2 linked regions of the Homo sapiens genome follow. The protein of the gene in region 2 purifies or fractionates together with the protein of the main gene of each other region. This does not show direct contact. Each region holds a gene or a part of one and is shown on either strand. Other genes may lie near its edges.

Evidence for each region.
Region 1: the proteins of CIB2 (region 2) and AXL purify together in Homo sapiens (affinity purification with mass spectrometry; one large-scale study listed by BioGRID and IntAct). This does not show direct contact.

What each region holds. Positions count from the first base shown.
Region 1 is NC_000019.10:41,250,118-41,253,766, forward strand, and holds part of AXL (tyrosine-protein kinase receptor UFO isoform 1 precursor), read left to right. Parts: intron 1-2,233; coding exon 2,234-2,326; intron 2,327-2,728; coding exon 2,729-2,850; intron 2,851-3,481; coding exon 3,482-3,591; intron 3,592-3,649. UniProt on the Homo sapiens protein: Receptor tyrosine kinase that transduces signals from the extracellular matrix into the cytoplasm by binding growth factor GAS6 and which is thus regulating many physiological processes including cell survival, cell proliferation, migration and differentiation.
Region 2 is NC_000015.10:78,110,878-78,114,526, forward strand, and holds part of CIB2 (calcium and integrin-binding family member 2), read right to left. Parts: intron 400-3,649; coding exon 288-399; intron 1-287. UniProt on the Homo sapiens protein: Calcium- and integrin-binding protein that plays a role in intracellular calcium homeostasis. Acts as an auxiliary subunit of the sensory mechanoelectrical transduction (MET) channel in hair cells.

The sequences.
Region 1 (3,649 bases), on a different chromosome or scaffold from region 2:
CCTTCCAAAGCTGTTTTGAGGCAAAGCACTTCATGCTGAGGGTGGCAAGTAGGACATGCTTGTTAATGTGGAGTAGGACTATATTATTTCCATTATCAGAGAGGGCAGGAGCCATTTCAGGGTTACACAGCACAGGAAGTCCAGGGCTAAGTTCTTCACACACAGGGAAGGAGAAGCATAGGGCATTCAGATTGGGGCTGGTGGTGAATAGAGAATGATCCTTTCTGAATTACAGGGCTTAAAAGCTTGGGCTATGAAGTCATTACCCACTCATTCGTTCATTATGGAGCACCTCCTGTGTACCAGGTTATTTTGTTTGTTTTGCTCTGTTTTGTTTTGTTTTGAGGAGGAGTCTCACTCTGCTGTCCAGGCTGGAGTGCAGTGGCATGACCTCAGCTAACTACTACCTCTGCCTCCCAGGTTCAAGCGATTCTTCTGCCTCAGCCTCCTGAGTAACTGGGACTACAGGTGTGCGCCACCACGCCCAGCTAATTTTTGTGTTTTTAGTAGAGACGGGGTTTCACCATGTTGGCCAGGATGGTCTCTATCTCTTGACCTCATGATCCACCTGCCTCGGCATCCCAAAGTGCTGGGATTACAGGTGTGAGCCACCACACCCAGCCTACGTTTTTTGTTTTTTGAGACAGAGTCTTGCTCGTTGCCCATGCTGGAGAGCAGTGGCAGGATCACAGCTCACTGTAGTCTCAACCTCTGAGGCTCAAGCGATCCTCCCCACTCAGCCTCCCACTGGTTATAGTCTTGGCCTGGGTCTGAATCTCAGCCGTGCAACCTTGGGCAAGTCATTTTGCCTCTGTGAGCCACAGTGTCCTGAACTGTTAAATGGGATGATACTTGTTTGGGTCCCCAGGGCAGGTAGGGAAGTGCTGGGAAGCAGCCTGGGCAGTTGTGAGCAGGTGGACCCTGGAGCCAGACTGCCCGGGTTTGAGATCTGCCTCTTCCACCTCCAAGCTGTGTGTTCCCTTAGGCAGACTCCTAACCTTTTTGTGCCTTGCTTTCTTCATCTTTAAAATAGAGATAGGCCAGGGACAGTGGCTCATGCCTGTAATCCCAGTGCTTTGGGAGGCCGAGGTGGGAGGATCACTTGAGGCTGGGAGTTTGAGACCAGCCTGGACAACATAGCAAGACTCCCTCTCAAAAAATTGGCTGGGCATGGTGGCTCACACTTGAAATCCTAGCACTTTGGGAGGCCAAGGCAGGCAGATCACTTGAGGTGGGGAGTTTGAGACCAGCCTGGCCAACATGGTGAAACCCCGTTTCTACTAAAAATACAAAAATTAGCTGGGCATGGTGGTGCATGCCTGTAATCCCAGCTACTCGGGAGGCTGAGGTACGAGAATCTCTTGAACTGGGGAGGCAGAGGTTGCAGTGAGCCAAGATTGCGCCATTGCACTCAAGCCTGGGGGACAAGGGCGAAACTCCATCTCAAAAAAAAAAAAAAAATTATCCGGGATGGTGGTGCGTGCCTGTGGTCCCAGCTACTCAGGAAGGCAAGCCTAGGAGTTCGAGCCTAACCTCCAGTGAGCTATGTTTGCTGTGATTGCATCCATCCTGGGTGACAGCGCAAGACCCTGTCTCAAAAAATAAAAATAAAAAACAAAAACAAAAACAAAACAAAACAAAACAAAAAACCAATAAAATGGGAATGATAATAGTAGCACCTGAGAAGATTAAATGAGTTAATATATATAAAGTTGGCCAAGCGCAGTGGCTGACGCCTGTAATCCTAGCACTTTGGGAGGCCGAGGCGGGCAGATCGTGAGGTCAGGAGATCGAAACCATCCTGGCTAACAAGGTGAAACCCCGTCTCTACTAAAAATACAAAAAATTAGCCGGGTGTGGTGGCACACGCCTGTAGTCCCAGCTACTCAGGAGGCTGAGGCAGGAGAATTGCTTGAACCCGAGAGGCGGAGGTTGCAGTGACCCGAGATCAAACCACTGCACTCCAGCCTGGACAACAGAGTGAGACTCCATCTAAAAAAAAAAAAAAAAAGAAAATATATATTTTATATATATATATATATTATATACACACACACAGACACACACACATACACATATCACATATAAAGTGCTGAGTATGGTGCCTGGTACTTACTAATCATGTTTGATGAAGATGAGTGATGATGATGATGATGATGATGATGGAGTGGAGGTGGAGGGAGAGTCCTCCCTCTCCTCCCCTCCTCCTCACGACCTTTCTCTCTCCCTCAAGTTGCCATCTGCACGAGGTCAGAGCTGGAGGATTTCCTGAGTGAAGCGGTCTGCATGAAGGAATTTGACCATCCCAACGTCATGAGGCTCATCGGTGAGAGAGGGGCAGATTCAAGGGGTCTACAAGCCCCATGGGGGCCATAGCAGAGGGAAGAGCCCTGCTTCTGGCCCTGGGAAGATCAAACTTCCAGGCTTCCTGCTCCCCGCTCCTTCAGGGTCAGCAGGCTTCCCCCTCCTAGTCTCCCTCAGCTTGGAATGTGACCTCTGATCATTCCCAGAAATAGCTGAGGTCCCCAGGAGGGCTCCGGAAACGTCCCTGGGAACTCTGCTGGAAACAGCTTCTCTGCAGCTTGGTCCTTGCCACTGCCACTACCCCCAAACAATATGGTGGCCAGATTGGATGGGTAGTGAGAAGGAGAGGCTGGAGGCTGGCTGGTGGGGGGCTTGGCTTCCCCTTCTGCCCAGCAGGAGTGACAGGGCTACCTGGGGGGCTCAGGTGTCTGTTTCCAGGGTTCTGAACGAGAGAGCTTCCCAGCACCTGTGGTCATCTTACCTTTCATGAAACATGGAGACCTACACAGCTTCCTCCTCTATTCCCGGCTCGGGGACCAGCCAGTGGTAAGGGGCGTTTAATCATTCAGTCTACAAATATTAACTGAGCATCTATCAGGTACCCAGTGCTGCTCAGACCCTGGGAAGACCACGGTGACCAGGAGCTTGCTCTCCTGGAGCATTTCTTCCAGCAGGGGAGGGGCGGATGATAAACAAGCTAATAAATACCTAAGCGAGATGATTTAAATGTTTAAGTGCTAGGAAGGAAATACAGTAGGATGGAAGATAAGGAGGCCAGGCAGTGAATTTGGGTGGACGTGGAAGATCTTGCCGAGGAGGTGACCGTGAAGGAGTTGGGGCTGGGGAGATGTCTGGAGATCTGGGCAGGAAGCGACCCCAACAGAGCGCACAGCATAGGCAAAGGCTCGGAGGTGGGAATGATCATCGTTTGTCTGAAGACCAGACAGGAGTCTGGTGGGAGTGTCAGTCAAGGGCAAGAACATAGGCAATCAAGTCCAAGAGGAAGGCTGGAGCAAGTTTATAGGACCTTGCAGGCCATGGAGAGGGGTTGGGTTGAATTGTCAGGGCCATGGGAAACCACTGCGGGCAGAGCTAGGCTTGCACAGAGGGATGGAGGGAGGAGGGATCGCATCAAGGACTCTGTTGACCTCTCCTCCCACCTGCCTTGGCTCCCCAGTACCTGCCCACTCAGATGCTAGTGAAGTTCATGGCAGACATCGCCAGTGGCATGGAGTATCTGAGTACCAAGAGATTCATACACCGGGACCTGGCGGCCAGGAACTGCATGTGAGTGCCTTTCAGGGACCCCCCCCCCCCAACTGCTCCTGCACTCCCTGAGGGAGTT
Region 2 (3,649 bases):
TGCCAACTACAGCAGGCTTGGGGCCACTTAACAAAGGGACAAGCAAATGAGCACAAGCCCATGGCCTGCAGTTGGGTGGCCACTGATGTACAGCACCCTTACAGAGCCCACATAGCTTATTTATTCAGAGTACAGATGAGGAAACTGAGGCACAGAGAGGTTCTGTGATCTGCTCAGAGCCACGCAGACACAAAGGGTGGAGCTGGGTTCAGCCTAGACCTGGGGGCCTCTGCTGCTGGTCCAGAGGCACAGATCCCCTGCTCGCCAGCAAGAGGTCCTGCACATACCCGGAGCTCTGGCATCTGGATGATGAGGCTCATGGGCACGTGGACGATGGGGCTCTTCCTGTAGTCCATTGGGACGAGGTTGGGGGCCAGCTCATAGAATCGCGAATGCAGCCTTGGAGGAAAGCAGAGAAAAAGCGCTGGAGGGGGTGCCATCCCTAAGCCCCAGCAGCCCGGTGCTGTCCTGCCTAGGCCTCTGCCTCTGCAGAACATCCTCAGCCAGGACCAGGTAAGGGGCCAATGGGAGGCTCTCTGCTCTGCCCACAGGGTGTGAAGTTGGGAGGGAGGTGAGTTCTGCCCAGACCTCTGTGCTGATAACCAGGTTGTGTCCAGGCCTCCCTATTTCCACCACACCCACCCCATCAGCACCACCACCATCACTCCTTGGGCCTGGGTCCAAATCTTTTAATTTTTTCTCCTTTGGGCTCTCATAAGGGTTTTCTATGCTCAGGATACTGTGCTAAGCACTTAACACATCACCTAATTTAATCCTCCTCCACATCACTGTGCAGACAGATGCATCCTGACCCCAGCTTACTGCTCAGCAAACAGGGCTGAAGAGGTTAAGAGTGATTTGTCTAAGGCCACATAACTAGGGAGCATCAAGGGCCATGGGTTGAGCCCAAGATGGGAAATCCAAGCAGAAACTCTTAGCCACTCTTCCCCCTTACACTCCTGAGGGTCCATCAAAGCCTGGGCCCACTTCGTGGCCCCACCACCCCAACTTAAGCCCTGAGGGTTGGGTCTCTCTGGGAGAGCTCTCAGCAGTCCTCACACCCTCAGGAAGCCCCTATGAATGGGTCACCCATAAACTCTCTAACTGGGGGCCATCGGGACCCAGGCTGCTACCCTGGTGGGCCTGGCCCTCCCTCCTCACTGATGGGTCAGGTCCCTAGCTCCTGTCCCAGCCTCCAGGAAATCAAGCCCACCTCAACAAGCTGCATGGACCCTCAAAGGTGTAAGGCATCCTGGCACTGTCTCACTTGGAAGCTCCCTTCCTCCCCGCCCCCTGCCCATTATTCAGTCTTTCTTTGCCCTATGTCCACTTGTCCAGGTCCCTGTCATCCCAGAGAATAGCCCCCCATCCCAAGACAGGTACAAATTGTATTTAGATGACATTGTGAGCTGCATGTGGTGGCCTATGCCTGTAAACCCAGTGTTTTGGGAGGCTGAGGTGGGAGGACCACTTGAGGCCCAGAGTTTGAGACCAGCCTAGGCAACACAGCAAGACCCTGTCTCTACAAAAATGAAAAAAAAATTAGCTGGATATCGTGGCTCAGTCATAGCTACTTGGGAGGCTGAGGCTGGAGGATCACTTGAGCTTGAGCCCAGGAGTTGGAGGCTGCAGTGAGCTATGATTGCCCCACTGCATTCCAGCCTGGGCAACAGAGCGAGACCCTGCCTCTAAAAACAAAAATTGTGTCCATTAAGTGCTGCCATGGGTGGGACAAGTGTAAGGGGCATTGACTGTGGGCTGAGGTAGGTAACCTGCCTAAAGTGATGTCCTAGGCTGCTGGTGAATGGATTAGGTATGACCCTGTATCTCCCAGGCTTGGGCCGGCCCTGCCACCCCCAAAGCCAGATCAGCCCAGGTCTCCTTTTAAGTGGCTTGACCCTGTGACACACCCCAGGCCCACCTTTATCAAGCCATTCAGCACAGCCACCCAACCTTCCTTGGGTTCTACCAGTTCTTGTGGTCCTGCTGCCTACTGTCCTTAGCAAGGCACCTGACTACTTACCCAGCTCAAACAGATAATAACACCAGCTATCGTTTAGCAAGTGCTTACTCTGTGCCAGGCCCTGAACTAATCTTCTCTGTGGATTGCTTTACTTATTTTAATCCCCAAATCACCCTGAGAGGTAGATATTAGTCTCCCATTTTCAGGTAGGGAAAACTGAGGCTCAAGAATCAAGTGTCTTCCCCATCCTACACAGCCAATGAGCAGTGGGAACAGGACTTGAACCCAGGACCTCTGGACACCAACCACTTGGCTCCTCCCTGCAAGTCAAGCCCTGGTAAGCACATCATCTGCTGGTTCAGAGCCTGTCCAGGGCAAATGAACAGTAAAATGCCACATGCCCACTTTGCCAGTCGCACATTCCTATAAAAGGGTCTGAAATTACAAGGATGTGCCATGACTTGGAGACAGAGCAGGAGGGGAAAACCCCTAAACTTGTACTTTGGGTGGGAGGAGGCTCAGCAAATGCCAGGGCGGTGGGATCAAGCTGAGACTCTCCACAAGAGGGCACTCAAGGACTTTCTTTGCTCCTATTTCTTGCATAGAGGAAAACTACTTTTTTTTTTTTACACTGTCCCCAAATAAGGAACAACCACTTGTTTCAAAATTCATGCATCTTCTTTCTTTCTTTCTTTCTTTTTTTTTTTTGAGACGGAGTCTCGCTCTGTCGCCCAGGCTAGAGTACAGTGGCGCGATCTCGGCTCACTGCAAGCTCCGCCTCCCGGGTTCAGGCCATTCTCCTGCCTCAGCCTCCTGAGTAGCTGGGACTACAGGCGCCTGCCACAATGCCCGGCACATTTTTTGTACTTTTAGTAGAGATGGGGTTTCACCGTGTTAGCCAGGATGGTCTCAATCTCCTGACCTCATGATCCGCCCACCTCGGCCTCCCAAAGTGCTGGGATTACAAGGCATCTTCTTTCATAATTCATGCATCTGGTACTTTGACATATCCATTGTGCTTCCAACTGCTACATTTCCCACTTGACCTTGACCCCACCTCATATGTGGCAGTGTGATGTTGGAGTGTTTCTAGGGGTTGGCCTACACCTCTGAAGTTTTGTGGGATGGCTGCAGCAGGAGCATGAAGTCAGGCTGAGGTTGGAGCCCTGCCTACACCTCTCATTAGCAGTGTGGGTAAGTGGGTTAATCCACTGAAGGATAAGTTTCTCTATCAGTAAAGCAGGGGCTATTCTACTGTTCTCACCCCTGGATGTTCATAAAACCACTGGCCTTCAACTGGCAGCTTTTAGCATGCTGCCTGCCACGTCAGAGGCTCCCTGGAAGGGGTGGACTAGGGAGAGAGGCTATGGGTGCTTGGCAGGGTTGAGGAGGTATCCTCTGGGGTGGGAAGGCCAGCTTCTACCCTGGGACACAGATCTGTTCTAAAACAGTAACTAAAATCACATTGGAATTTTTCTTTAAAGAAAAATCCAAGGAGAATTTGAAAACCCAAATCACTGTGAAAGAAACTCTAAGCATTGTCAAAGAACCACATCTCTGTCACCTCTCCCCCAATAAAGGGCACTGAATTCAAGAAGAGTTATATATTAGTCCTACTGTAACATCCAGGACCAGAAACCATACTTACGCTACTTGAACTGCCCCCGAGTATGAGGCAAGAAATGT